4 linked regions of the Homo sapiens genome follow. The main gene of each other region encodes a partner of the protein of the gene in region 3 in a complex. Each region holds a gene or a part of one and is shown on either strand. Other genes may lie near its edges. A codon is read from its position in the direction of its gene.

Region 1 (7,017 bases), on a different chromosome or scaffold from region 3:
TAAACCAATCAGAAGTTTGTATTTGATTACAATTTGAGAATTCAAAGAACATATCTGAAGAAATAGCACTGAAAATAAAGATGGGCGAATTCTTAATACTGTGTAAGTAAATGTTTCATGTTCCTTTGTTAGATCCCAAGCAGTATTGAAGATATATTTAATGATGATCGCTGCATAAATATCACCAAACAGGTAACAACAACAAAAGTAAAAACATTGCTGCTAAAACTTTGGGTCAAAGTAAAACGCCACTTAATGTTAATTTTTTCTTATTCTTTTAGACTCCATCATTTTGGATTTTAGCTCGTGCCTTAAAGGAATTTGTGGCCAAAGAGGGTCAAGGAAATTTACCTGTTCGAGGCACAATTCCTGATATGATTGCAGATTCAGGCAAATATATAAAACTGCAAAACGTGTATGTCACTGTTTTCAAACTATGTAATAGAAAAAGTCTGATTATATTAGAGATAAACATTTTATCATCCTGTCAGAAATCAAATGAAAGTTTATTACAACCTCATTGCTTATAAATAAACTAGGCCAGCTGCAGTGGCTCATGCCTGTAATCCCAACACTTTGGGAGGCCAAGGTGGGAGAATTGCTTGAGTCCAGGAGTTTGAGACCATCGTGGGCAACATAGTGAGACTTCCATCTCTACAAATTGAAAAATTAGGTGGGCATGGTAGTGTTCGCCTTTAATCTCAACTACTCAGGAGGCTGAGGCAGAAGGATCTCTTGAGCTCAGGAGTTTGAGGCTGCAGTGAGCCATGATCATGCCACTTCACTTCAGCCTGGGTGACAGAGCAAGACCCTGTTTCAAATAAATAAGTAAAAATAAGCTGAAGAACTTAGACCAGGCTGGGCGCAGTGGCTCACACCTGTAATCCCAGCGCTTTGGGAGGCCGAGGCAGGCGGATCACGAGGTCAGGAGATTGAGACCATCCTGACTAACACGGTGAAACCCTGTCTCTACTAAAAATACAAAAAAATTAGCCGGGCGTGGTGGCAGGCGCCTGTAGTCCCAGCTACCCGGGAGGCTGAGGCAGGAGAATAGCGTGAACCCGGGAGGCGGAGCTTGCAGTGAGCGGAGATCGCACCACTGCACTCCAGCCTGGGCGACAGAGTGAGACTCTGTCTCAAAAAAAAAAAAAAAGAACTTAGGCCGGGCGTGGTGGCTCACGCCTGTAATCCCACCACTTCGGGAGGCCGAGACGGGTGGATCACAAGGTCAGAAGATCAAGACCATCCTGGCCAACATGGTGAAACCCTGTCTCTACTAAAAAAATACAAAAAATTAGCCAGGTGTGGTGGTGCGCACCTGTAGTCCCAGCTATTCGGGAGGCTGAGGCAGGGGAATCGCTTGAACCCAGGAGACGGAGGTTGCAGTGAGCCAAGATCGTGCCACTGCACTCCAGCCTGGAGACAGAGCAAGAGTCCGTCTCAAAAAAAAAAAAAAAAAAAAAAAGAACTTAGGGGGCAATTCTTGTTAAGCTCAAAGCAAAATTGAATGGGAAATACAGAATTACCACATACGCCTAGGAGGCAGAGTTTTTTTTCATACTTCATGATAAACTTAATATTTGATCCCTTAACTCTGTGCTATGAACTATATGTATTAAGTAATTTAACACACACACAAGGTTCACAACGACCTTATGAGAGAGAGAGAGACTGTTACCGGCCCCATTTTACACATGAAGAAACTAAGGTATTGAAAAGGTTACTTATACAAGGTCAGATAGCTGGTAAATGGCAGAACCAAGATTTGAACCCCAGGAAACCCAGTACCAGAGCCTGTATGCTTAGCTATGGCCCTATACTACCTTGTATTTGTAACTTAAAACCATGAAGGTTTGATGAATTTTTTATCTTAATGTTTCATAAGTTATAGTCTATGACTATAGCTAGACATCTTGCTATCCAGGTATCACTAGCCTGAACCCAGATAGACTATCACAGGGATGGGTCTCAATGAATATGACCCTCGTATAGTTAGGGCATGGTGCAAAGAATCCAGGTCTGCTGGCTCGGTTTCTTTGGGGTCCAAGTAATGTCACACAGAGATGATCTCTCTTCCCCAGACAGATTTCACTCTTTATCATGTCACCATTGAACGAATCTTGGTTTGTTGTCCTAGCCTAAGAGTTCAACTACTTAAAACTTGGGGAAGGTCAATTGAGGATAGAAAGAAGTATGACCTTACATGGGAGGTAGTCAGCCTGAACACTGATGATTTTTAGAGGGTGAAAGGTAAATAGACGTAAAGAAAACTTTTATGGCCGGATGCAGTGGCTCACACCTGTATTCCCAGCACTTTGGGAGGCCAAAGCGGGTGGTGAAATGTGCCACAAGGGATGTTCACAGTTGTTTTAAATGGTTGAAATTTTACGTTTTCCATGGTCTGTCTCAGTGGTATAGATACAGATAATAATTGGGTAAGGGTTTTTTTTTCCTCTCATAATAAATACAGAGTATTTTAAAACAATCAGAGGTAGAGCATGTTTATCTATGGCAATGCTAAAAAGGTATGAAGGTCAGTTAATTGAAAATTGTCATTAATACAGTATTTTCAGTTTCTAAATCACTTGAACCCAGGAGTTCAAGACCAGCCTGGGCAACATGGTGAAACTCCGTCTCTACAAAAAAGACAAAAATTAGTCGGGCATGGTAGCGTGTGCCTGAATTCCCAGCTACTTGGGAAGCTGAGGTGGGAGGATCAGTTGAGCGTGGGAAGTTGAGGCTGCAGTGAGCCAGGACTGCGCCACTGTACTCCAGCCTGGGTGGCAGAGCGAGATCCTGTCTCAAAAAACAAAGAAGTTTTACATTGGAGATGAACAGTTTTAATGTATTTAACTTTCCTTGGACTTGACTTCCAGGAGATAAGTCATGTTCTTCAGTAATGTATTTTTTCAGGTCCTCTGTCACAGAAGCCGAAATCATAGATCCCTCTAGGGGAGCAGTTTTTAAGTTGGGTGCTGTTAGAGGGACCCTGGGTTTTAGTGGGCACTGAGAGTCCGTCACTAACACTGGAAAGATTCCCAGCTACTCATGGTGCTGTTGATAGCATTTCCCTGGCATTTTCACATTTCATACATTGTCAGACCTGTGTTTTTTCATGAAAAGGAAAGAAAATTTTTGTTCATGGTAACAATTTAAATTTTGCTAATTTAAAAATTTGTTAGTAATTGCTTTTTATTCTTTTTTAGTTACCGTGAAAAAGCAAAGAAAGATGCTGCCGCTGTGGGTAATCATGTTGCCAAATTGCTGCAGTCCATTGGCCAGGTAAGCTACTGGGCACACTGTGCCCATACAGGCCTCAGCACGTAACTCCAGCCAGAAAGGGTTTAGAGACAGAGGGTGTGGCACTGCCTCTGTGCTTCTTTAGAGGGAGCTGTCATTTCCCTGCCTAATGGGATAGCTTGTGATAAGGAAACAAGATATTTTTAAAGTGCTCTCCCAGCTCTTGGAGAAAGCCTTCCCATCTCACAGTGATTGGCTTTGTGCCGCACCCTTTGTTAATCTTCTCTTTTAAACTGGAACAGAATCTGTATTTATCTCTTTACAGGCACCAGAGTCCATTTCAGAGAAAGAATTAAAATTACTCTGTAAGTCCCCTTGAATTAATTTCCTTATTTTGCTTGATAGAAATGTGCCACAGGGAATGTTCCCAGGTATTTTGAATGGTTGAAATTTTAAGTTTTCCATGGCCTCAGTGATATAGATATAGATAATTATTGGGTAAGGTTTTTTTTTTCCTCTCATAATACAATACATGGCGAGTATTTTAAGACTGAATCAGAGGTAGAACATGTTTATCTGTGGCAATGCTAAAAAGGCTTGACGGTCAGTTAATTGAAAATTGCCATTAATACAGGATTTTCAGTTTTTAAATTTTAAGTAATTTAGGAAGTTTTTTTGTCTGAAGACTTTGGGTGTGAAGTCTTGAGTCACATGTACATTGACAATATTGGTTTAAATACTCATTTTGATCTGTGTTAAATGACTGTAATGGAGTTAAGAATTTTGCCATCTAGTTTCGGAGTGGTTAGGTTCGTAGGAGTCTTCTCAGTAACTCCTCAGTAGGCCAAAAGCATTTTCTTTTATTTAAGAGTCAGTTTCAAAATACCCAATCTGTTGTGCATGCCATCTGAAGATTTCTCCCTGTAGCTACTGCTCCTACGTCCTGTGGAAGTTTATATTTTGCATGCTCCCCATCCTTAAAATAGATTTATCCAAGCTTTCCATTTTATGACTTCTCCACAATGTCTGTTTAGGCTCGGTTTTAATGTTTTCTGCCACTACTAATCTTGCACCTTGTTTGTTCTATTAGACTAATCTTGAATTAGCGTTTGTTGTATTAGATTATATAATACTAGATCACAAGTTTGATGCTGGGTATTTGAACATTTATTATTCTGTTCTACTTTGGGGCGTTTTTGAAAATTTCAATAATACAAAGCTTAAAGTCATTACATATATCAAGAGTACAATTCATAAACCTCTCTCCTTTAGGACTACTTATCCATAATAATGATGAAAACTATTATTTTTAGAGCCATATCAGGCATTGTGCTAGAGATGCACTTTATACAGATGTCACATTTAATCTGTAGAACAATTCTCAAAGGTAAACAGTATCATCCCCATTTTACACTTGAAAACTGAGGTTCAGAGAGGCCATCACCTTACTTGCTTCTGAACTGGTTGTAGTGCCAGGGATATAAATTTAAGGTGATTCATGTTCTAGTGCTTTCTCTGCTATTAGAACCAAGGAGAAAACATTTCTTCACATTCTCATGTCTGAGAAGGGTATACACATAATTCTCTGTTCTTAAAGTCACCTGTGATTCATAATATTCACCAGTCACAGTCATTACTTCCAGAATATCTTTCCTCTGTTCAGGCAGCAATTCTGCATTTCTTCGAGTGGTAAGATGTCGATCCTTAGCTGAAGAATATGGTTTGGATACAATTAACAAGGATGAAATTAGTAAGTATAATAGCCTTCTGATTCTGGGTTAATTTTAATTAATTTAAAAGATATAAATATTTTGTGTATAATAGTGTTGAGTATATGGTGATGATATTAAAGATAACGTAAACATATTCTAATTTTATTCTAAGCTTATCTAGGTAATTATAATTTATATATTATATGAAACTTAATGTATGCATAAAGTCATATTTAGGTCACTGAGTCCATTGTGTGATATGTATGAGTTAAAGTCAGTATGTTACTACTTCAGTAGAGATTGTGTGACTCCAGTTAATAGTCCTGAAACTCAAGTATATAGTAAATTCAGCCCTTCATTGTTTGTTACATTGCAAATTAACCAAATTAAACTGAAATTTTTTTTCCTTTCAGTTTCTAGCATGGACAATCCAGATAATGAAATAGTGTTGTACTTAATGTTACGGGCTGTTGATAGATTTCATAAACAACAGGGTAGATATCCAGGTAAGAATAGCAATTGAATTACCAGATATAATAAGATCTTCAATAAAACATTTAAATTGAAAGTGTTCTCAGGGTATTTATAATAGTGTTGCTTGAATTTCACATTGTAAACAGATTACACCCCAAACGTTCCCCAGTGAAGAACCACCTTTTGTTTTTTAAGTTTAACTATTTGCAAAATAGTGTTCGATTCTAAACTATTACAGGGGGATGTTGGTTGAATATGTATAGAAGAAAACTTTTTTCTGTCATTTTCCATAGTTTGTTACTAAGACTCACACTGAGTTTAATTTAGTGGAATAGGAAAGCCACAAGAAATATGCTGGCCAGGCATAGTACGGTGGCTCACGTCTGTAATGCCAGCACTTTGGGAGACTGATTCAGGCAGATTGCTTGAGCCCAGGAGTTGGAGACCAGCGTGGGCAACATGGTGGAACCCCATCTCTACTGAAGATACAAAAAATTAGCCAGACATGGTGGTGTGCACTTGTAGACTCAGCTACTCGGGAGGATCACCTGAGCCTGGGAAGTTGGGGCTACAGTGAGTTGTGATTGTGCCACTAAACTCCAGCCTGGGTGACTGTGGTGAGACTGTCTCAAAAAAAAAAAAAAGTATGCTACTAATTTCTGAACTCAATAACTCTGAAGATGTAGGAATTTCTTTGTTTAGTTATCTACTTTTTATCTTCAGCAAATGTAGTCATTGGAGAATTGGCATAATCTCAAAGATCTGAGGTTGCTCAGAATATTTTTCTTTGGGATGATAATTTTAATTGTGCAGGATTATTGCATAGCAACACATTCTAGGGGTATCATAAAACCTGCTGCTCCATCTGATACAGTGTGTCTCCAGAGTTTATAGTCTTTTTTTTTTTTCTTTTGAGACGGAGTCTCGCTCTGTCGCCCAGGCTGGAGTGCAGTGGCGTGATCTCAGCTCACTGCAACCTCCGCCTCCTGGGTTTAAGCAGTTTTCCTGCCTCAGCCTCCCGAGTAGCTGGGACTATAGGCGCCCGCCACCTCGCCCAGCTAATTTTTGTATTTTTAGTAGAAACAGGGTTTCTCCGTGTTGGCCAGGCTGGTCTCGAACTCCTGACCTCAAGTGATCCTCCTGTGTTGGCCTCCCAAAGTGCAGGGATTACACGCATGAGCCACTGCGCTGCCCAGAGTTTATAGTCCTAACAAGCAAGCTTACTAGAAGAAAAAAAAAGAATAAACACCAAATATGTATTGCTTTATTTGTATTATTTGATTAGTATTTATTTCAGTTATCTGTTGCATAACAAACCACTTCAAAACTTAGTGGTTTAAAACAATAAATAGTGTCGTGATTTTGTGGGTTGCCTGGTCTCAGGCAGTTCTCCTTGGGGAGGCATGCAGTTGCTTGAGCCTGGGGGTGGAGTCATTCTGAAGGCTTGACTGACTGAGTTAGACATGCAAGAAGACATTTTTACTCATGTAACTAGCACCTTAGTCAGAACAGTGGGAATAGCTGGCGGCTGGTCAGGTATCTCTTCACGTGGCTAGCTTGGACTTCCTTTTGGCATGTCAGTTGGCTTCTG
Region 2 (6,972 bases), on a different chromosome or scaffold from region 3:
GGAGCGGCCCTTCGCCTGCGCCGAGTGTGGCAAGGCCTTCCGCCAGCGGCCTACGCTCACGCAGCATCTCCGCGTACACACGGGCGAGAAACCCTTTGCCTGCCCCGAGTGTGGCCAGCGCTTCAGCCAGCGCCTCAAGCTCACGCGTCATCAGAGGACACACACCGGCGAAAAGCCCTACCACTGCGGTGAGTGCGGCCTGGGCTTCACGCAGGTCTCGCGGCTCACCGAGCACCAGCGCATCCACACGGGCGAACGGCCCTTCGCCTGCCCCGAGTGCGGCCAGAGCTTTCGGCAGCACGCCAACCTCACCCAGCACCGGCGCATCCACACGGGTGAACGGCCCTACGCATGCCCTGAGTGTGGCAAGGCCTTCCGCCAGCGGCCCACGCTCACGCAGCATCTGCGCACCCACCGACGAGAGAAGCCCTTCGCCTGCCAGGACTGTGGCCGCCGCTTCCACCAGAGCACCAAGCTCATTCAGCACCAGCGCGTCCACAGCGCCGAGTAGCTCCAGCCGGGACGCACTGTGTCCGCCATGGTCAGAACACCTACCTCCCCTGGTTATTGTGAGGCTGGCGATTACATAAGTATAAGCAGGTCCGCCCAGGGCTTGGCTACTGTAGGTGTCCAATAAACAGTAGATGGAAACTGGGTCTCCACCCACTCAGTGCCTCCCTACCTGTGCGTCCTTCACTCCCCACCCTCCAGCCCCCCGAGTGCTGGGCTGGTGTGCTCCCTCTGTAACCACGTGGTTCCTGTGAGGGTTCACCTCCACAACACCCCTCTTCACCCTGAGAGAGGTGGCTCCTAGCATCACCTACCCCGCGTGTGGGATGGCCGCTATACCCAGCTTCTAGTTTACAGAGGGAATGGACCAGCAGCAGGTGGGGCAGAACTGCCCTGGGCAGTCCAGCTTCAGCTCTCCCTGGGCAATGGACCTCGGTTTCTCAAACCCAGAGAGGAAGAAATGTTCTCTGTGAGCATCCACCAAGAGTACATATGTGCATAGCATGGTGCCATGCCTGATCTGATTGAGTCCCATCAAGAGACAGAGCACAGCTAACTAGGTGTTAGGTGATTGATGGGAGAGTGAGAAGGTTAAGTCAATCTGTCTTAGAAATGGGAAAGTTCCTGCAGGAAGCAGCTAGACCCTTAGGACTAGAGGAACAAAGGGAAGCATTGCAACTTAGAAGCTCCAATGAGTTTCCCATGGAGCTGGAACTCAGGCCCCTGAGAAGAGGGCACTGCTGAGCCAGTCCTGGGGTCTCTTAGCTGGCAGGGAAGCCCTGTGGGCCTGAGGGGGTACTGCTCAGCTGGTCTGGAGGTCTCTGTTCTCAAGAGGGTGCCCCATAGGCCTAGGAGACTCCTGAGGGGGCACTGGTGTGGGTGTCTCCAAGGGGCCCAGTGAGCCTGGTTCTGGGAGGTATGTAAAAACTGTTGCTCCTGGAAGGACCTGCTGTTGCCAAGGGGAAGAGGTGGTGCTGGCCTAGTCTCTTCTCCCTTTCCAACCCCTGTTCCAGCCTGCCCTTAACAGATCTGCAAGTGAAGAGAGGTGTTTGTAGTCTCTGCCCTGCACAGTGATGCCTAGGTGGGTAGGTCTGGAGCCCAGCCTTGTCTGGTGATGAAATCCCATGGGATTTTCCCTTGACACTGAGACCAGGGCCTCCAAGGGCTGGGAGAACACTCAATCCTCAGGGAGGTTACCAGCCTCCTGAGCACCAGTCCTCCTTGCTCCAAGTCAGCGTTAATGATTCATTCCCATGATACTACCTCTCCCACCCCAGCTCAGCTGTACAGCTACCCTTACCCTAACAGCACCCTACTCCCTAAAGTGGTCCTGAGCGGCCAAAGCTTTCTACCTTTATCTACCTATCAGTAGGAGTACCCGCTGAAGAGTTGTACTCATGGGGACATTCAGCATCTCACCCTTAGTACTAGAGGAACAAAGGGAAGCAGTGGGGTCACAGCACTTCTTACAGCTGGGAGCCAAGGATCCCACTTGGATCTGCCAACCCCCAGGTTTGTGGGTGGTACTGTGCCTAAACTTGATGCCTGCAACCTGCATGCTCCCCTCCACACCCTGTCACGGCTGTCCCCTGGGCCATGGGCCAAGCCAAACCCCAGGAAAGGACCCAGACAGGCCAGAATCTCCCTAGCCAACCAAGATTATGCGATCCAGCAGGAGCAAACTGACACCTGGTGATCCAGATTCTGCCTCAGGATGTCTTTGTAAAACTCCTTTACACCTAGGAAACCATTTCCTAGTTTTAAAACTAGAAGATTTCACCTGGAAATTCAGATTTTTCAAGACTTTCCTGTTCTCGTGTTCACAAGCAGCAGGTGATGAGGGTGTAGGACCCTGCAGATGGAACCCCAGCCAGTCTGAGAAGCAAAGGCTGCAGGCCCTGGGCCAGTTTCCCTGCCCTGTGGTGATCATTCCCATCGCTAGAGCTGAAGGCTTCTCCCACCCTGGCCCCATGCACATTGGAAGGTTTCAGTCAGGAGTAGATTCAGCAGCAAACCAGTGGAAACGCAGCTTAGGTGAAAGTGGACAGATGCTGAGAGCATAAGTTCAGCATACTGCAGGCTTCAGGGCAGCGTCTCCAGGACCCAGTGCCATTGCCTGTTTTGCCCTAGCCATCTTCCCCTTCCATCCCATTGTCCAGGTCCTTCACACAGCCCCTCTCCCCCAACCCTCCAGTGGGTGACTTGGGTGCAGGTAACACAGGCTGAAAGGCAGTTTCAAAGAAGGGGCTTGGCCTTGGCCAGAAGCCACTCCTGGGGGAGCATCTGCAGAATCAGAGGAGTGGCGCCTGGGCCCCTCCGCAGGCAAGTGCCACACCATGCGCTCACGGGGCTGGCAGTTTCCGTGGTGACGGCCGGAAGTCGCTGACCGGCAGAGTTCCGTTTCCTCCCGCCCTCCGAGGCACGCTGAGCTGTGATTGGATGGGAAGCTGACCCCCGCCTCCATCCCCTTTTCCAGATAGTGGGGGAAGCGCAGAGGCTGCAGTGCGTGTCCGCTGGAACTTGAGGCCCACGCCAATAGCGGCCCGATTCCGCCCCCACGTCGCGTTCCCCAAGTGTCCACCCCGACAGGTCTTCCCCTACACCACTGTAACCCTCCACAGTGCTTACCACTCTCTGGCACAATACATGTTTTGTTAGTTTACCTCAATCAGAATCTCCAGGAACGGGGATCTTTGGGTTTGCGATGGGACAGGGAAGGTACTCGACCTCGCACCCTCTGGGTAACGCATCTAGTCTCACTCAGGGTCTTGCCGCGATCACCCTGCCTTGTCTGTGACCCATAGGGTCAAAGGCAGGCCGGGCGGGTGGCGGCAGCAGCGGAGGTGACCACCCGCGCCGCGCTCTGCACATATATACAACTTAAGATGAAGTGACCGCGAGCAAAAGCGGCCCACGTCTGCCCCACTCAAAGATGGCGACTAACTCCGCTTCCTGCCCGGCCCCGCGAAAGTCGCCGGAAGTGACCTGCAAGGCCGCCGAAGCGTCATCTCCATGAACGGAAATGCCCGAGTCCAGCCGAAGGAGGCCGAACCCCAAACTCCATCGCTGAGCAACGCGGGTTTGCGGCGGCTGCGCAGGCGCACAACGCAGGCCGGGCGGGAAGAGCCAAAGCGGGCAGGCGGCGGAAATATCCGAAGCGGCGGGGCGCCCGAGGCCGTTGCCGACCTCCGCGCTAAAGCCGCTGCTGCCGCGGAAGACGATCCTCCAGTACCCGCCCGCCGTCACCGCAGCTGCCGTGTCCTCCTCCCACCCCTAGCCGCACCCCCTCGCGGAGGGATCAGCTGAGCGGCCAAACGGCACGGTCGGGGGAGCCCCGAGTCCGCAGCTGCAGCGGGGCCTGAGACCAGAGTTGGCGAGGGCAAGGAAGGAGCGGCCCCGGGCAGTGGGGGCGGGGCCGGGCGGGCCCGAGAACAGCCGAATTTGGCCGAGCGCTGCCGAGCGAGTCCGAGGCGCTGGGCCAGGCCGGAGCCGGACTACGGGAGCCGAGGCGGGCCGCGCGGTGGGCGCGGAGAGGAGCGGAGCGGCGCGGCAGGCCGGGCGGGTGGCGGCAGCAGCGGAGGAGGCCGCAGCTGCGGGTCCGAGGAGCGGAGGCGACGCGGGCGGCGGCGGGGGGCCGGGTGGCCGGGGTCCCGGGCCCCGCGGCGGCGGCAGCGGCGGCGGCGGCGGCAGGATGATCAAGCTGTTCTCGCTGAAGCAGCAGAAGAAGGAGGAGGAGTCGGCGGGCGGCACCAAGGGCAGCAGCAAGAAGGCGTCGGCGGCGCAGCTGCGGATCCAGAAGGGTAGGGGGTCAGGGGATGGGGTTGGAGCCGGAGGTCGGAGGTCAGGGCCTGAGGCAGGGTGATGTGGGAGTCAGGAAGGGGTAATGCGGTTGCTGAGGGTCAGAGGTGAAGGGCCCCGAGCGTGGGGGGGGTCGGAGGTCAAGTCTTGAGGGTTGGGATCATGCAGTCACGGGGAGGGGGTCAGAGATAGGGGCCCGGTATGTGGTGGTTTAGGATATTAGGAAGGCCTGGTGTCTGCTACTAGGGACTCGGAATCTCAGAGTCAGGCAGTGGAGTGGAGGAACTGACGACTCGAGAGTCTGGGGGTTAGACGGGAACTTGGGTTTGGGGTGACAGGCGGAGAAGAGAGGGATAGTAGAGGCCAGGGGTTGGGGATATGAGTGGAAGAGGATTTAGTTTATTATGCTGGGGTCTCTGGGAATCTCTGAGTCAAACGGGTGAAGTAGGTTGGAGGACCAGGGACTCATGGGCCTGCCTGAGTCACAGCAATTTGGGGTTTGGGGTGACAGGTGGAGGAGGGAAGGTTAATGAGTACCAGGGATTGGAGACAGGGGTGAGGGGAAATTTAGGCTATTGTGCTGTGAACCTCAGAGTCAGAGGGGGTGGGGTAGGGTGGCGGGGGTTGGGGACTTGAGAGTGTGGGGGTCACATGGAAAGCTGGGTCTGAGAGACAGAGAAGAGGAAGGACAGTGAGGACTGAGGGTTGGTGGGGGTGGGCAGGATCTTTGAGTTTGGGTGAACAGGTAGATACTGTAGAGTGGAGGTCATGGATGGGGAGCCTGGGGTTTAGGGCGGTCAGAGGATGTTTGGGAGTGGGGGCATTTGGGAGCTGTGGATACAGAAAAGTTGGGGGTCACCCTGGGCCAGGAGTTGGGACACGCATACACAGCTGAACATGCATGTTTGGGGTATGCTGTGTATCCACAAGAGCCAAGCTGGGGAGCAGGGAGAGGGCTGGAGGTGTGGAGCACAGCCCAGGAGAGGCGCCTGGGGGTCCAGGAGGAGACGATGGGGGCTCTGCTAACAAACACCCGCCCTAAGTGTCCTGCTGGCTCCCTCTCTCTCTCTCTTCCCCTCCCTCTTTCTGTTCCCGACTCTCTGCTACCCAAACCCAGACATAAACGAGCTGAACCTGCCCAAGACGTGTGATATCAGCTTCTCAGATCCAGACGACCTCCTCAACTTCAAGCTGGTCATCTGTCCTGATGAGGTGAGGGTGCATATGGCTGAATTCCCAGGAGCAAACCAAGGGTGTCCCCACTGAGAGGAGGGAGACATGTTCTGCCCATCGGGCCCCACAGGATGGAACCCTAAAATTTTCTTCTCCCCCTTTTCCTCCCAGGGCTTCTACAAGAGTGGGAAGTTTGTGTTCAGTTTTAAGGTGAGTCCCAGGCGGGCAGGGATGGCTCCCTGGACAGAGGAGGCAGCAGCTGAGGCCCTTCCAGGCACCTACCCATCTCTCTTTTCTTTTCCTGGAGCCAGGTGGGCCAGGGTTACCCGCATGATCCCCCCAAGGTGAAGTGTGAGACAATGGTCTATCACCCCAACATTGACCTCGAGGGCAACGTCTGCCTCAACATCCTCAGGTGAGGACACTGGCCCTCTAATGCCCTCCTCAGCGCTGCCTGCCAGGCCTCCCTCATGGTCTTGTGGGCACTACATCAGACTCTGTCCCTTCCCACCCCTTTGTTGTCTGTGGTTTCTTGATTTCCCAGTCATCTTCCTCATGGCCTGACCTTGGTTTTCTCCTTGGCCTGTCCTGCTCCACACCCTCCCTCCCAGCCTCTCACATGCTCACTCTCCTATGCCCTGGATCTGACCTGCCCAACACCAGAGGGGCCTGTGGCAGTCTCCCACTCACCAAGCCCTGACCCTGATGCTCTCTGTCCACAGAGAGGACTGGAAGCCAGTCCTTACGATAAACTCCATAATTTATGGCCTGCAGTATCTCTTCTTGGTGAGTAGGAATAGGTGGTTGGGTCTGGGGAGATTGGCCTTCTGTCCCTCTGGCCTGTTGACCCCCCCTACCTGTACTGGCCACAGGAGCCCAACCCCGAGGACCCACTGAACAAGGAGGCCGCAGAGGTCCTGCAGAACAACCGGCGGCTGTTTGAGCAGAACGTGCAGCGCTCCATGCGGGGTGGCTACATCGGCTCCACCTACTTTGAGCGCTGCCTGAAATAGGGTTGGCGCATACCCACCCCCGCCACGGCCACAAGCCCTGGCATCCCCTGCAAATATTTATTGGGGGCCATGGGTAGGGGTTTGGGGGGCGGCCGGTGGGGGAATCCCCTGCCTTGGCCTTGCCTCCCCTTCCTGCCACGTGCCCCTAGTTATTTTTTTTTTTTTAACACCATGTGATTAAGGTCGGCGCTGCCTCCCCCGACCCACTCAGCGATGGGAAATGAATTGGCTTGTCTAGCCCCCCTGCTGGGTGCTTGTTCAGCCCCCACTCTGGGCTGTGGAGTGGGTGGGCAACGGGCCTGGGTAGCTGGGCCCAGGCAACCCACCCCTCCACCTCTGGAGGTCCCACCAGGCTATTAAAGGGGAATGTTACTGCATGGCCTCTGCTTCTTACTTCTATGGGGTGGGAGGGGCAGCTGAGGTCCATTAGGGCCTGCAAAGCTGGGGTGGTGGAAGGTGTGGTCACAGGTGGCATTGG
Region 3 (7,870 bases):
CCACAATGGAAATCATCATGGCAGCCACCACCAGGTAGTTGGTCTGGTAATAGAGCAGGTTGCTCACTACGCGGTTGTTCCATTTGGAAATGTCCCTGAAGTCCGGCCGGGCAAAGCGATCGGAACCCGGGAAGAAATCGTCCCAGGCGCGGAGTGGGGCGATATTAACGTCCATGTTCTCAGCTTTGCGTTCTTCGCCTCCAGAATCTGGCGGCGGCGGCGGCGGCAACCGATCAGCTGAGCTGAGTTGGAGAGTTGACAGCGGCTCCGTCTCGGTCGGCTTTGCGGTTGGCAGACAGCAGAGCAAAGGAAATTGGGAGTGGGCGGGCGTGTTTGCTCCTCTTTACTTCTTCATTGGCTCTTGGTTGGGTACAGGAAAACAGGAACCTCCAGACAGAACAAGGGACTGAGTGCAGAATAGAGACGAAATGACAGAAAGCAACTAGCGGAAATCCCCTGTCTGAAGGGAGGTGGCAATGCCTTCTCTAGCAGCAGAGAAGCTGCCTCCTTCGAAATACCTTTTTTGAAGGTTTACCTAGGAGTGTGTTCTCTGACTTAGAGAAAAATTTTGGCAGCTGTGCAGATGCCAATCTAAGTGAAATGAAATGGAAGGCGACTACAGTGTTAATGGAGAATGAGCTGCTTTTGAAAACTAAGTCTTACTAACCTCTACACATCTGAATGCAATTCCCATGTTTTCTCTGTTTCACCATGAGTCACTATGTGTGAAATCAGATTGGCAAAACGGGAAAGAAGGTCATGTAGAACAGAAGGGCTGGTCTGTTTTTTTCACTTCTCTTCTTTGTTCTCCACCTCTGTTCTCTCTAGGCTAAATTGTTGGACTGCTATGCCATTCTGATAAAGTAGGCACTCTGGCCACTTCAGTCCTGAGCTGGGCATGTTGCTTACATTTTAAAGCAAACAGTTGTCTGCAGTGAACTAGTTGTTCTGCATCCAGCATTTTCTGGGCAGAAATATGCATTCCACTTCAAAAGTTTTCTTAGTTTTATTGCAATATTTGGTGACAGCTTTCACTGAGGGACCACAATATATTCATAGATAACGTGATGTTTTGTATCCCAGCCCAAAGACCTGGCAAAAGAAGTATTCGTTGTCAATTCTCTTCTAAGCTTCCAAGGGTCATCTTTTTTCAGTTAAGGGGCTGATTGGTACAATGCATGAGAAAAAAAGTAGTTTGTTTAATTGTATAATGTAATAGGTAGAATTCTAAGGTGAAGATTTCTAAGATAACAGAGTCTCTAAGCCCCTAAGTGGCTTAGACAAGGTGAATTCACTCTACTCAGATCACCAATTTTTGAAAACTTGGAAAGTAATGAAATATACTAATGCAAAGTCTAGAAAACATAATTTAATTTTCCTTATTAATTCAGAAGACAGTTAAGGAGCTTACAGCGACTCTAAGAAATTACTACTACTACTGTTGTTTAGGAAAATTTGGTGATTGCATGGAATTAGTGCTAAGATATATCTTATGTGCTGCTTTTTGAATAAAGTTTAAAATGTGAAAATATTCCTGAGTGCTCATGTTTTCTTGATTCTGGAAAAATGGGATGGTGTGAAGTCAGAGAAAGCAAAATTAGAGTCGCAGCTCCTTCCTCTCTGGCAGGTGACTTTGGAGAAACTACTTAATCTCTCCCAGCCTCGGTGTCTTCATGTGTAAAGTGGGGATAATGGAACATCTGCCATATAGACGAGGCTAAGTGAAGGAATGTATAGGAAATGCTTAGTGTATAATAAAGGTTCACAGTTATATGTTACTATTATTGTTATTAGCAATAGGATAGCCCACGATTCTTGTTTGCTATTAATAGTGCTTTAATCTGATTTGTTTTCTATGCTTTCATTATAAACATCTACTAACTTTTCTCTACCTTGCTCCAACTTTATTGTTGTGGATGTATCTGGGTAGGGGGAAAAGGTTGAGAATATTCAGTACAATGCCAGCAAGTATTTCGAGTTCTTTTGAGGCTCTGTGAAAGCACTGTGGGTTTTTTTTCTTTTCTTTTCTTTTTTTTTTTAAAGAGGAGAAAAATGTAATCCTGCTCTGCCTTCAAAACTTCTGCAATCCAGTGGAAACACTAGTTAAATATGAGACAGTAAGAGGAGTGCTAAATAGAGATGCACTGAGCCTCAGTGCTCAGTTACAGGAAGTCAGAGGGTGTGGAGGAATTCCCCAGGGCTTCAGAATGTCAAGAGGCAGCACTGTGGGCAAGCTGAGTAAATCATCTTGGTCAAGATGAGAGTGGGAACTCCAGTGGGGCCCCACACTGTTGGTGAGATTTATGAGTATTAGAAGCTGTAACTAAGAACTTTATCTTCCAACTGCTCAGAACTGCATGACCAAAAGCTGTCAAGAGTGTATTAGTAACAATATGATTACTCCTTGATCACAGGCAATTGATACCCAAGAAAGAATTAAACCTCTTTAGAGGTTTAAACATAAATAAATAAATTCTGAAAAGACAGAGAAAGCTGTTTATAGCATGATTCCCTTCTGTCTCCCTCCCAAAATGTTAACCCTGTCTCTCTCTTTGGGGTATGGGAGATTTTTTTTTTCTCTAAATATTTCTACCTTTGTTAAATTATTTTAAATAAAAATGAACATGTAATGAGTCATTACTTTTTTCCAGTAACTGTTTGAAATGCTATTAGTAGCAGCTCTTTGTTAGTGTTCATTCCGGGGAGGGAGGGGTCAGATTCACTGTAGAGGTCTTTCTGGAGCTTTAATTTATTATTATTTTTAGAGACAGGGTCTCACTATGTTGCCCAGGCTGGTTTTAAACTCCTGGGCTCAAACAGTCCTCCCACCTCAGCCTCCCAAGTAGCCGGGACTACAGGTGTGGGAAGCCGAGCCCTGCTTGATGGGGCTTTTATAATGGGACTGGTGTGTCTAGATAGGACCATTCAGACTATCTGTCTGTTTAAAAACCATAGCAGATAGTCTAATTGTTTATGATATGTTCCATTTGAAGTAAAATAAATCTGTTGAAGGTTTTGCTTGCATGTCTCTGTTGCTTTCATTCCTGGCAAGGGCAGATGGCTATTTCTAATCCGTCAATCAATCTAAGCCAGTGAGAGTGCCTGGTGTCGTTTATCAAAATACCACCATGGTGAGTCAGGCTGTTAGTCTCAAAGCAAGCAGATGCAGGGCCAGATACCTTTGCAGACTTCTTCATCGGCTAGCTGTACTCTATCCCTAGGCCTCAGTTTCCTCCCCTGTGAAATGGGTGAGACTGGACTAGGTGGCCTTTAAGGTGACTGCTGCTTTTCACTATCTGAGAGGGTTGCAATGCTCACTACCACTAATCAAAGGGTATCCAGTATTGTTGGGGGTTCAGGCTACAGGAGCCCATTTTGATAAGCACTGAGGTTAAATCCTCAGTGAAACCATCTGTGGAGTTGTCTGGGCAAGAAAAAGTAGTTTCATAGTTGACGCTGAGACATGTGATGCAGAAGGAGGCTGGTATCTCTTGATAGGGACTGTGAACTCTATTCCCACGCTCACTGCCTGGCATTGACTTTCAGCTCAGTGAATGCTATTGAACTGAACCTAATTGGGGGACCATAAAGGACAAGCTTTCCTTAAGGTTCACTGAAAACTAGGACAAGAGGAGGTTAAATATCACAGTGTAGTAACAGCAGCTACATTTACTGAGTACCCATCAGGCTTTATGTACTCCATTTCAGTGGCCCTCAAACTTTACCAGTGGAGAATCACCCCAGGCTTTGCAGAAGGCTGAAGGGTGGGGTGGCGGGGGGGCGGTGGGGAGCGTGGTGGGGGCGGTGAGGGGTGAAAATTTGTGTTAAAAAAAACTTCCCAAGTGATGTTGATCAGGAACTGTATTTTGAGAGCCACTCTGGATTTTACTTAATTATCAGTCTTACAAGGTGAATAGTGTTATGCCCACTTTATAAATGAAGAAATAGAAGTGTCTAAGGGTTTCGTAGCTCACAACTGAGAAGAATTTAAAATCAGTTACTTTTGATTCCAAATATCATTCTTGTCCCACTCCATAGAAGGAGATGTGTGTGTACGTGTATATACATACATTTTTGAACATGATCATTTCCCTCTATCCAGCCATCCAGATTCACAGTGTATATTTGTATTTCTGACTCTAGAAGAAAATAATTGAAACTTTTATCACAATTTATCTTTAGGTGATAGGATTATGGGTGTTCTCAGTTATTCTTTGATTTTTGTGATTGTTTTCCTTTATACTTTTTTCTTTGTATCTAAATATACACATTTATCTCAGGAAAAGTTTTAATCATTTTGTTTCCGCTGAACTTATCTAACAGAATGTGACATGAAAATATTAATGCTGATTTGTTCAAAGAAAATAATAATCTCCCACCCCACCAATGTAAACGGATTTAGATAAATTTATTATTCAAGTGAGTACTTATAAAGGCAAAGACTTTGGAACCATCCTGAAAAGCAGAAAGTGAAAATTTCCTTGATCTTTGCCCCCAGAGGAAAGCTCTGGCATACTGGGAGGGTTCTTCACGAATTTTTCATAGAATATACCAATATTTTGTATAATTACGTATTAACATATAGTTTGTGTAAACGCATAATGTATTGTCTACATTTTCACGCTGCAGAGCAACATTATGCACGGTATAAGATTCACCTAATTAAGCGTAGGTAATTAAGATTATAATTACAGGGCAAGACTTTAAAGCCCATGGGAGCCCAGCCGCAGTCAACCTCGCACCTCCCTGCCGGTTGTGTTTCTGGCCTCGCCCCTCCCCGCTTCGCCAGCCCCGCCCCTCCCCGCTTTGCCAGTCCCGCTCCTCCCCGCCCTGCCGCGCGTGGGCACCTGGGAAGAGGCGGAGAACAATATGGCGGATGGCGAGGAGCCGTAAGTACCGGGGCTCTGCAGACGCGCCGGGCTGGGCTGGGTTGTGAGAGAGCGCGGCGGTGGGCGGTTGCCGCCGCCACCCGGGGTCCCCACACCCCCCGCCCCGTCCCCTCGCCCCCCTCCCCTCGCGGCGCCCAGTGTGTAGCGCGATGCTGACCCTTCTTTTATTCTCTCTTTTAGGGAGAAGAAAAGAAGGAGAATAGAGGAGCTGCTGGCTGAGAAGTTAGTGCTGCCGGGAGGCCGGGGCCCTCTCCGGGGACCCCCGCCTCCCCCCACCCCAGGCCTAGGGGACCAGCCGCAGCGGGCCCGGGGGGCTGGGAGGGGGACACCCGGAGCGCAGGCCGCGCTGCCTCATCCCCTGATCCCCGCCCCGCAGCCCCGGGGGCCTGGCGGGCCGCTCCCGGTATCTGCCCGGTGCGGGCGTCGGGGCCAGGCTGTACTGCCCCAGCTCCTGCAGGGGCCCTCCGGGGTGCTTGACGTAAAGGTCTTGAGGAAGGACCCTTGTGCACTCCTCTTCCTCCATCCCAAATTGTCAGAGCAGTGACCCTGTGAAAAGGCAATCTACCTTAAACACACAGGAAAAGGACACAAGACCGTTTTGTGGCCTTTTGCAAACACTGAGACAGTAGTACTAATTGCAAACTTTTAATGATAACTCTACATGTCAGGTATTGTACTAAGCACTCCAGTCATTTTGGCAGAATAATTGGCTCTTAAAAGATCTGGAAAGAGGTTGTTGACTTCAAACAGCCTATTTATCCCTTTTACTACACACCCTATTTCTTATCAGATGCTTAATTCTATGCTGGTGAGACAGATTTAATCGAAGTGTTTTCTAACCTGGCCAGCGCCACATAATTTACTCCCCTCCCTGCCTGGGCAGGGAAAAAATACTCTTGCATTGGTTATGGTGAGTTTGTAAATTTCCGTGCCGATTCCCAGTAGCAGTGCTTTGATCTTTATGTGTGTCCCTCAGTTGAATTTCAGCTGCAAGAGGACCGGGATGACAAACTTAATTTCACATTCTTTCCTGCCTTTTATTTCCCTCCCACTTTTACATGAAATCACAATTAAACATTGCTTACCATATCCCACGTACTGTACTGAGTCTTCTGTGTGATTATCTATATCCTCATGGCTGAAAGAAGTAGCTATGAACGGCCTGCAGATGAGGTTTATGTCTATTAAGTAATCTGCTCAAGGTCACAGTGCTGTTAATTGTGGAACCCAACACAACTCTGACATCAAAACGTATGGTTTTTATTGCTAGGCAATACTTCTTGGTCCCTTTTGTAAAAATTGGATATTACTAATATATTTGACGGTAGAAACTGTGGAGTTATAGGAAATTAGAAAATTAAAAATAATCACAACCAAACGTGAATCTTAACTAAGTATAAAATAGATGAATTTTGTAGAGGAGTCCCACCTTATTCTGTTGTATGTTCTAAAAGGTTTGTAGATGTCTATCTGTGGCGTAATTGTAATCTGAAACTTTGTGTTTAGTGGCAAGAAAAGCCGTCCCACAGCATTAAGAGATTCTTTAAAAAATTAAGACCTCTGCCAGGTTCGGTGGCTCATGCCTGTAATCCCAGCACTTTGGGAGGCCGAGGTGGACGGATTACTTGAGCTCAGGAGTTTCAGACCAGCCTGTGCAACATGGCGAAACCCGTCTCTACTAAAAATACAAAAATTGGCTGGGTATGGTGGCATGTACCTGTAGGCACAGCTACTTGGGAGGCTGAGGCAGGAGAATCACTTGAGCCCAGGAGGGCAAGGCTGCAGTGAGCTGCAGTCACACCACTGCACTCCAGCCTGGGCAACACAGTGAGACTCTGTCACAAAAAAAGAAAAAGAAAAAGAAAAAATAACCTTATTTCTGAGAAAAGTGTGTGAAAATTCCTCTCATCAAAGTGATTTTTAGATTACACCTTTGGAAAGGACACATAAATATTAAATTTGCATCAGACATATAAGCATCAGAATTCTGAAAGTGTGACTTTTTTTCTCTGTTGTATCTCATATTTCCTAATGCAAGTGTGATGAAACAACAGATTGAGGAAGCTTGCAGTGTTTTTTTTGTAAATACCAAATGTAGAGAAGTCAATTTCTCACATAATAGACCAATATCCTAAGTTGAACCTTGGATTGCTTTAGGAAACCAAAAACATGTAGACTGATTTATTTCATCCATTGGGTGAAATAAAAATAGAAACGTGCAGTTCTTAACTTTAAATGAATTGTATAATAGGCAAGAAAAAATTTCAAAGCATAAACATAATCACATTGAATATTTTCCTTTTTATTTGAGCAGGTCTGGTGTGGTTACCTTTTCATTTGGGGATACCATAATAGTTGTAGGTGTGGTTTTTTTCATACTGATCTTTGCAGCTGAATTTACTGTGTTCTGTGCAGAATGGCTGTTGATGGTGGGTGTGGGGACACTGGAGACTGGGAAGGTCGCTGGAACCATGTAAAGAAGTTCCTCGAGCGATCTGGACCCTTCACACACCCTGATTTCGAACCGAGCACTGAAGTGAGAAACGTTTATTTTTAAATAACTGCTCTAATAGTTTTATGTTTCAAAACTAATAGAATGCTTCTTTTTTAATTTGCTCTTACAATGAAAATACTAATAAAATTGTTTTGTGAAACTAAATTTTTCTTAAAATATGAGATTGAATATTCACAACTGATTTTGTTTGAATATTTGAGTCTTAACATTTCTCATGTAATATAAGTTGAAAATTTTTGTGAGAAAAATCTAACTTCATGACCTCATGTAAAAATTTAAAATGCTTTCTGAAACATACTCCCCTTTTGTAGTGCTACTGTGAGAAATTAATTTTGATAGGAGTATAGGTGTGCTTACTTAAATTTTGAAATTTAGTTGGAATGAACATCTTAGCTTTGAGTATAATTAATTGCATGTTAAGAATTATGTAAGTACTAAATAATAGAGGCGTAGAATTTTGGACTGA
Region 4 (7,017 bases), on a different chromosome or scaffold from region 3:
CCTCCTTGAACTCTCTTTTCTGTGGACTTGCACTTCTATTCTGCTACTTTGGTTTCTGCTTGTCGCATCTGCCCCCACAGAGCCTGTCCTACCCCAGTATGTGGGTCTGGCTGTCTTGCTGCAATAAACCCGCAAACTGGGCAAGTTTCTTAACCTGAGTCTCAGCAGTTTATGGGTAAAATGAAGGATCAATCTGGCAAGGCTTTGAAAAGTCAAACAAGAATTACCCCATTAAGTGCCTACTATGGCTCGAATGGGGCCAAAATTCATGCTGAAGCTTAATCCCCACTGTGGTAGTATTAAGAGGTGGGGCCTCTAGGGAAGTGATTGTCATCAGGGCTCTGCCGCATAAATGGATCAGGGCCTTATAAAAGAGCAGGAGGAAACTAGCTTAGGCCCTTTTTGCCCTTCCATCTCTTCTGCCATGTGAAGACACGGCAACAAGGTGCTATCTTTGAAGCAGAGAACTACCTGTACCAGATACCAATCCTACTAGGATCCTGGACTTCCCAGCCTCCAAAACTCTATTGTTTATAAATTACCCAATCTGTGGCATTTTGTTACAGCAGCACAAATGAACTAAGAAGGTGCCCAACAGAGGGCCTGGCCCTAAGTGCTCAGTATACAAAAGCTCCTATTAGCTACTATTAACCATGACAATGATTGGGTAAAGAAGATGGGACAGTCTGTTTGTCAGCTTCTACCCACTCCTCCTCAGCTGACATCCAGGCCCTCCTTGCTGCAACTCCTCAGGCACTGAAGCACTCACTGTCTACTCCAAGTACAGCAACAACACACCATTTTCCTGGCTTGTGCTGCAGATGGAGCCCGGAATCTGAGAAGACACTCAAGTCCTATCAGGCACACCCAAGTAAGGTGCTCCAGCTCTTGCCCCGCCCTCTGGGCCTCTTAGGGTAAAGCCTCCAGCACAACAGACGCTGAATACAATCTACTATTCTCCCAGGCTTAGTAGGTAAGGCCAAAATGTGAAATACCATTCTCACTCCACTTTCAACCAATCATCAGGCTGGATAATCCAAAACTAAGTCCAAACTCAGGGGCAGAAGGAGAGTAAGAAAAAGAGTACAGGCCAGGCACAGTGGCTCATGCCTGTTAGTCCAGCACTTTGGGAGGTCAAGGCAGGCAATCACTTGAGGTCAGGAGTTTGAGACCAGCCTGGCCAACATGTTGAAACCCCGTCTCTACTAAAAATACAAAAATTGGCTGGGCGTGGTAGTGTGTGCCTGTAATTCCAGCTACTCAGGAGACTGAGGCATGAGAATCGCTTGAACCCAGGAGGTGAAGGTTGCAGTGGGCCGAGATCATGCCACTGCATTCTGTCTTAAAAAAGAAAAAGAGGACACTGTTAAGTCCCCACAAACCCAGTGCCCTCACAGTTCCCATTCCTTCCCCAGTTTAACAGTGATTTGTGTCTGGGAAGGCCAAGCACAGCACATTTACATACACCAGCTCTTCTGCTGTTAGATTCTTCAGGACACGTAAATGCCTGCAATCTCCATGTTGTCAACCTAATACAACATGAAAACAGGGAGTTCGAATACACTAATCAACCCTTTGCTTTCTAGCTGCTCTACATGTAAGAAATGTAAACACTTGACGGGTACAGTGGCTCACACCTGTAATCCCAACACTTTGGGAAGGCCGAGGTGCGTGGATCACTTGAGCCCAGGAGTTCAAGACCAGCCTGGGCAACATAATGAAACCCCATCTCTACAAAAAAATAAAAAATAAAAAGACTAGCTAAGCATGGTGGTGCACGCTTGTAGTCCCAACTACTCAGGAGGCTGAGGTGACAGGATCGCCTGAGCCCAGAAGGCTGAAGCTGCAGTGAGCCATGATTACGCCACTGCACTCCAGGCTGGTGATAGAGTAAGAGTCTGTCTCAAAAAAAAAAAAAAATTTTAAAGAAATGTAAACACCTGTGATAAAGTAAGGCCAGGCACAGTGGCTCACGTCTGTAATCCCAGCACTTTGGGAGGCAGAGGCGGGTGGCTCACCTGAGGTCAGGAGTTCAAGACTAGCCTGGCTAACATGGTGAAACTCTGTCTCCATTTATGGCCGGGCACAGTGGCTCACACTTGCAATCCTAGCACTTTGGGAGGCCGAGGCGGGTGGATTATCTGAGGTCAGGAGTTCAAGACTAGCCTGGCTAACATGGTGAAACCTCGTCTCTATTAAGAATACAAAAATGGCTGGGCACGGTGGCTCATGCTTGTAATCCTAGCACTTTGGGAGGCCGAGGCGGGCGGATCACCTGAGGTCAGGAGTTTGAGACCAGCCTGGCCAACGTGGCGAAACCCCATCTCTACTAAAAATACAAAAAATTAGCTGGGCGTGGTGGCAGGCGCCTGTAATCCCAGCTACTATGGAGGCTGAGGCGGGAGAATCACTTGAACCCTGGGGGCAGAGGTTGCAGTTAGCCAAGATTGCACCACTGCACTCCAGCCTGGGTGACAGAGCGAGACTCCATCTCAAAAAAAAAAAAAAAACAAAAAAAAAAAAACCACAAAAATTTGGCCAGGTGTAGTGGCTCATGCCTGTAATCCCAGCACTTTGGGAGGCCAAAGCGAGCAAATCACCTGAGGTGGGGAGTTCAAGACCAGCCTGATCAACATGGAGAAACTCCATCTCTACTAAGAATATAAAATTAGCCAGGTGTAGTAGCGCATGCCTGTAATCCCAGCTACTCGAGAGTCTGAGGCAGGAAAATTGCTTGGTACTCGAGAGGCTGAGGCAGGAGAATTGCTTGAACCTGGGAGGCGGAGGTTGTGATGAGCCAAGATCACACCACTGCACTCTAGCCTGGACAACAAGAGCGAAATTCCATCTCAAAAAAAAAAAAAATGAGCTGGGCGTGGTGGCGGGTGCCCGTAATCTCCGCTACTCAGGAGGCTGAGGCAGGAGAATTGCTGGAACCCAGGAGGTGGAGGTTGCAGTGAGCCAAGATTGTGCCACCGCACTCCAGCCTGGGTGAGAGTGAGACTCTGTCTCAAAAAAATAAATAAATAAAATACAAAGTTAACTTTATTATAAATAAGCAAATTATAATCTCCTTAAAGGTTGCAACTGTTTCTTCATCTTTTATAGGTCTTATGACCCCCAAGAAACCGACTTCAAAGCACTTGAAAATTTTAAGAGTTTGCTAAATGAATAAATGCAAAATTTATGCTCAAACATACAAATGAATGCATATCTGCATGCACGCATACTCTCATACATTTTACCAACCCTTCTCCAAGGATAAAGTTTCTCCTCACCAACATGGATAGCAGAAGTCACGAAAACTCTAGAACACTATATGTTATTAATTCCGTGAAGAGAACTAATTTTTCACAAGATTCGCCGTAGGCTTTGACCTGAATAAAACAGGAAAAGATCCTAAGAGATTACAAAATTTGACTCCTTCCCCTTTACAGAGCAGAAACTATGGTGCTGAGAATCAGAAAGAAAGGAAGATAATGGCAGCTCTGAAACCAGTCTTAGGCTTTGCTGACTCTCAGCACCTTATTCTTTCTGCTAGCATTTTGGCAGACGTGACAAAGAACATCCCAAGTGTATAAGACACACTGCAGTTTCTAATACCATCTCCTTGCAACAGTGTGCTCATATCACCTGCGTGGTACAATGTCCTTCACTATAAGAGATAAGCAATTATATTTTAAAATCTTTTAAACAGGTATTTCTATTCAGCAGTAGGTTGCTTTATATCCCCAAAGACTCTCCAGTCAAACTTCCTTTTGTTATAGGATATAAAAACAGTTCACACGAATGATCATTACCTTTAACAAGCAATTTGTCTCTCACAGAAACCCTCCGAGTCGAGTCGGACGCTGTGGCTGCCGTCCGGGACCCTTTGAGACCATCGTCACGCTTCAGTTTACTTGCTAGCGTTAGCATTACTGCTGCCTTTACCCTGAAAGACAGCAATGAAAGCAGGGTTAAGGACCAGGTCTCCAGAGACTAATTAGACACTGAGAAAAATGTATAAGTGCTTTTGTATTTTGATTTTTTCCCACAATTTAGTTATGGAAAAAATTTGTACACATTAATAAGATTGGATTCCTTCATAATACATTTGAGAAGCTCTATGCCATCCTCTATAAGCCTAACTTTTAAAATTATGAATTAACATTTTTTAAAAAAGAGAGTCATGGCTGGGCACGGTGGCTCACAACTATAATCCCAGCACTTTGGGAGGCCAAGGTAGGAGGATTGCTTGAGCCTAAGAGCTCAAGACCAGCCTGGGCAACATGGCAAAACCCTGTCTCTACAAAAAATATAAAAAAATTAGCCAGGAGTGGTGGTGTGTGCCTGTAGTCTCAGCTACTCGGGAAGCTGAGGTAGGAGGATCCCTTGAGCCTGGGAGATTGGGGATACCGTGAGCCGTGATTGTGCCACTGCACTCCAGCCTGTGTGACACGGCAAGACCCTGTCTCAAAAAAAAAAAAAAAAAAAAAAAAAAATTTAAAATTAAAAAGAGTCATGCATTTCACACTCACTGGGTGCCAGGTCCTGGGATGTGGTTGTGACAAAGCTCCCGTGGAACACAAGGTCTAGGGTGGCCTCCACAGTTTCTCAACCAGCATGCCCTCACCAATGGGTTCCACATGAGTCCATTACTGCCCACTGGTAAGTTGGCCCTTCCCTGCTGCAGGGGATCATGCACACACATGGTACGGTCCCAGGTTCTGGCCCATCACCAACTGAAGCAGCACAGCCTCTGGTGGAAGAGGAGCACCACTCTTTGCTCTCCTTCCTCTTTTAATAAAGGTGTGGATAGAGCCTTAATAAGCATCTTCTCATTTATTCATGCTGTGTTGCATTTACTTACATTTGTGTTTTATTTATATTTTTTGGCAATTTCAACATCAAGACTAAATTAAAATTAATGTCCCAAAGTAGATTATGTTCATTGGTGGCTTCCACCCCATCTGTGTTGCAGGTTCCCCTGCTGCAAGCTCACTAGTAGGGACAACAAAGACCAAACACAGGTGATGCCCCTTGCTATCTGGGAGACGGTTGAAGAAATGCCACAATTTGTTTAAGATTTTATTTTTTAATGGCAGTTTTAAGTATACAGTAAAATTAACAGGAAGGTACAGAGATTTCCCATACGCCCCCTGCCCCAACACATGCACATCCTTCCCCTATTACCAACATCTCCCACCAGAGGGTACATTTGTTACAATTAATGAACCCACATTAACACATTATAACTCAAAGTCCACAGCTTACATTATGATCCCACTAATTGTAACAAAGTAACTATCCGCTAGACTCTGCCTTCTGTTTCTAACATAAACTGACATTAATCGTCCTCCTTGCCATGGTCAGAGAGGGTCACTGGAACTTCTTTTGACTGAGGACAAATATTTGTCACCAGGGCCAGGTGCCGTGGCTCATGCCTGTAATCCCAACACTTTAGGGGAACGAGACAGGTGGATTATGAGGCCAGGAGACCGAGACCACCCTGGCCAACATGGTGAAACCCCGTCTCTACTAAAATACAAAAAAATTAGCCGGGCGTGGTGGCCCACACCTGTAGTCCCAGCTACTTGGGAGGCTGAGGCAGGAGAATCACTTGAAGCCGGGAGGCAGAGGTTGCAGTGAGCTAAGATTGCACCACTGCACTCCAGCCTGGCAACAGAGTGAGACTCAAAAAAATAAAATAAAATAAAACAAAATAAATTGTCACCAGTTCAATATTTCCATAATTTCCTTTGTTGCTTTCGTATCATTTTATTTCAATACCACTCTGATCGTTTCAACAGAAAATGATCTAAAAATTCCATGTGAAAAGCTTGACCTAAGCACAGAAATTTTAGGTTGAGGCTAAGATCCTGAAAGTCAAATAAGAATACTCCGTTCCTCATTGGCATTTGAAACCATTTTTCACCCAGGTCTCTTACACAGTTTCTCACACCATCTTCTGCATATCCCCTAAATGCTGTCAGATTTTATTTTCTATTGTTTGTACCATGAAAACAGTACAGGCCAGGCATGGTGGCTCATGCCTATAATCCCAGCACTTCGGTAGGCCGAGGCAGGTGGGTCACCTGAGGTCAGGAGTTCTAGACCAGCCTGCCCAACATGGCAAAACCCCATCTCCACTAAAAATACCAAAAAAAATTAGCTCGGCATGGTGGCGGGTGCCTGTAAATCCCAGCTACTCAGGAGGCTGAGGCAGAAGAATAGGTTGAACCCGGGAGGTGGAGGTTGCAGTGATTGTGCCATTGCACTCCAGCCTGGGCAACAAGAGTGAAACCGCATCTCAAAAGATAAAAAAATTTAAAGAATTTTTTCAAAACGAAAACAATACATAGAATACGATCTTCTGAACTGCACAGTCTTTTCCACTAGAGGACACGGACATACACATACCCTAAACCCCTTAAGAAGCACTGGTCTAAAGGTTTCAAAGACAGCTCTGCACTTTCACGGTCATAAGCTCTCAGAATTGCAAAGTTGGAATGGACTTCTCTCACTCCCATTCCATTTTAACATGTGGACCCCAGGACAACAGAGGCCCAGAAGGTAGGCTGCCCAAAGCCACTCAGCTGCTAGAAGCTGTCACCACAGACACACTAGTTTCCCTCTTGTGGATGACAAAAATGTTTTTTGTTTGTTTTTTGAGACAGGTCTTGCTCTGTAGCCCAGGCTGGAGTGCAGTGGCGTGACTTGAGCTCAGTGCAGGCTCAAACTCCCAGGTTCAAGAGATCCTCCCACCTCAGCACCCTCCACCTCCTAAAGCAGCTAGGACTACAGGCAGGCACCATCATGTCCAGCTAATTTTAATTTTTTTTGTAGAGACAGGGTTTCACCATGTTACCCGGGCTGGTCTTGAATTCCTGAGCGGAAGCAATCCACCTGCCTCAGCCTCCCAAAGTGCTGGGACTACAGACGTGAGCCACCATGCCGGGCAGGAAATGTTTTTATCTCGAGTGTGGTCATGGTTTCAGACTGATCAATTACACAATTTAAATATGGGCAATTTAG

What was found.
Region 1: the proteins of UBA3 (region 3) and NAE1 are in contact, whole or in part, in a crystal structure (PDB 3DBR), measured with the Homo sapiens proteins. Residues at the interface, in NP_003959.3 of Homo sapiens: Trp34 (codon at 7,342), Glu35 (codon at 7,345), Gly36 (codon at 7,348), Arg37 (codon at 7,351), Trp38 (codon at 7,354), Asn39 (codon at 7,357), His40 (codon at 7,360), Lys43 (codon at 7,369), Phe44 (codon at 7,372), Glu46 (codon at 7,378), Arg47 (codon at 7,381), Ser48 (codon at 7,384), Gly49 (codon at 7,387), Pro50 (codon at 7,390), Phe51 (codon at 7,393), Thr52 (codon at 7,396), Phe56 (codon at 7,408), Glu83, Lys86, Asn87, Leu90, Ser91, Val106, Ser107, Leu109, Asn110, Arg111, Phe113, Leu114, Arg116; in NP_003896.1 of Homo sapiens: Glu10, Gln11, Lys12, Tyr13, Asp14, Arg15, Gln16, Leu17, Arg18, Leu19, Trp20, Asp22, Glu44, Lys47, Asn48, Leu51, Pro52, Gly67, Glu68, Ala70, Gly71, Asn72, Asn73, Phe74, Phe75, Gln77, Arg78, Ile81, Phe92, Glu95.
Region 2: the proteins of UBA3 (region 3) and UBE2M are in contact, whole or in part, in a crystal structure (PDB 2NVU), measured with the Homo sapiens proteins. Residues at the interface, in NP_003959.3 of Homo sapiens: His53 (codon at 7,399), Pro54 (codon at 7,402), Asp55 (codon at 7,405), Glu61 (codon at 7,423), Ser62, Phe65, Cys70, Gln149, Asn152, Asp153, Thr154, Arg157, Gln158, Phe159, His160, Ile170, Arg173, Trp174, Ser181, Leu182, Leu183, Asn184, Pro192, Ile195, Val196, Pro197, Leu214, Met217, Arg254, Met255; in NP_003960.1 of Homo sapiens: Lys3 (codon at 4,208), Leu4 (codon at 4,211), Phe5 (codon at 4,214), Ser6 (codon at 4,217), Leu7 (codon at 4,220), Lys8 (codon at 4,223), Gln9 (codon at 4,226), Gln10 (codon at 4,229), Lys11 (codon at 4,232), Lys12 (codon at 4,235), Glu15 (codon at 4,244), Lys21 (codon at 4,262), Gly22 (codon at 4,265), Ser23 (codon at 4,268), Ser24 (codon at 4,271), Lys25 (codon at 4,274), Lys26 (codon at 4,277), Ala27 (codon at 4,280), Gln31 (codon at 4,292), Leu32 (codon at 4,295), Gln35 (codon at 4,304), Lys36 (codon at 4,307), Ile38 (codon at 5,428), Asn39 (codon at 5,431), Glu40 (codon at 5,434), Phe51 (codon at 5,467), Ser52 (codon at 5,470), Asp53 (codon at 5,473), Pro54 (codon at 5,476), Asp55 (codon at 5,479).
Region 4: the proteins of UBA3 (region 3) and UBE2F are in contact, whole or in part, in a crystal structure (PDB 3FN1), measured with the Homo sapiens proteins. Residues at the interface, in NP_003959.3 of Homo sapiens: Ala401, Thr403, Thr405, Leu406, Glu407, Gly408, Asn410, Arg411, Thr412, Ser417, Val418, Thr419, Ser420, Ile421, Arg424, Thr425, Gln442, Glu443, Ala445, Ala447, Asp448, Val449, Thr451, Pro452, Gln453, Thr454, Leu456; in NP_001265234.1 of Homo sapiens: Thr27, Arg28, Arg29, Val30, Asp34, Lys35, Val38, Lys39, Val41, Ala42, Glu45, Val54, His55, Phe56, Pro57, Asp58, Pro59, Asn60, Leu62.

Annotation. Positions count from the first base shown.
Region 1 is NC_000016.10:66,806,962-66,813,978, reverse strand, and holds part of NAE1 (NEDD8-activating enzyme E1 regulatory subunit), read left to right. Parts: intron 1-132; coding exon 133-192; intron 193-281; coding exon 282-415; intron 416-3,206; coding exon 3,207-3,282; intron 3,283-3,565; coding exon 3,566-3,605; intron 3,606-4,903; coding exon 4,904-4,990; intron 4,991-5,365; coding exon 5,366-5,458; intron 5,459-7,017. UniProt on the Homo sapiens protein: Regulatory subunit of the dimeric UBA3-NAE1 E1 enzyme. E1 activates NEDD8 by first adenylating its C-terminal glycine residue with ATP, thereafter linking this residue to the side chain of the catalytic cysteine, yielding a NEDD8-UBA3 thioester and free AMP.
Region 2 is NC_000019.10:58,555,611-58,562,582, reverse strand, and holds UBE2M (NEDD8-conjugating enzyme Ubc12), read left to right. Parts: upstream 1-3,971; 5' UTR 3,972-4,201; coding exon 4,202-4,310; intron 4,311-5,425; coding exon 5,426-5,520; intron 5,521-5,652; coding exon 5,653-5,691; intron 5,692-5,792; coding exon 5,793-5,896; intron 5,897-6,203; coding exon 6,204-6,267; intron 6,268-6,353; coding exon 6,354-6,494; 3' UTR 6,495-6,871; downstream 6,872-6,972. Other genes in the region: MZF1 (myeloid zinc finger 1), read left to right, coding at 1-511.
Region 3 is NC_000003.12:69,077,353-69,085,222, reverse strand, and holds the start of UBA3 (NEDD8-activating enzyme E1 catalytic subunit), read left to right. Parts: upstream 1-4,857; 5' UTR 4,858-4,869; coding exon 4,870-4,889; intron 4,890-5,069; coding exon 5,070-5,111; intron 5,112-7,304; coding exon 7,305-7,425; intron 7,426-7,870. Other genes in the region: ARL6IP5 (PRA1 family protein 3), read right to left, coding at 1-175. UniProt on the Homo sapiens protein: Catalytic subunit of the dimeric UBA3-NAE1 E1 enzyme. E1 activates NEDD8 by first adenylating its C-terminal glycine residue with ATP, thereafter linking this residue to the side chain of the catalytic cysteine, yielding a NEDD8-UBA3 thioester and free AMP.
Region 4 is NC_000002.12:237,970,009-237,977,025, reverse strand, and holds part of UBE2F (NEDD8-conjugating enzyme UBE2F), read right to left. Parts: intron 3,935-7,017; 5' UTR 3,919-3,934; coding exon 3,801-3,918; intron 3,378-3,800; exon of another isoform or gene 3,279-3,377; intron 1-3,278. UniProt on the Homo sapiens protein: Accepts the ubiquitin-like protein NEDD8 from the UBA3-NAE1 E1 complex and catalyzes its covalent attachment to other proteins. Together with the E3 ubiquitin ligase RNF7/RBX2, specifically neddylates cullin-5 (CUL5).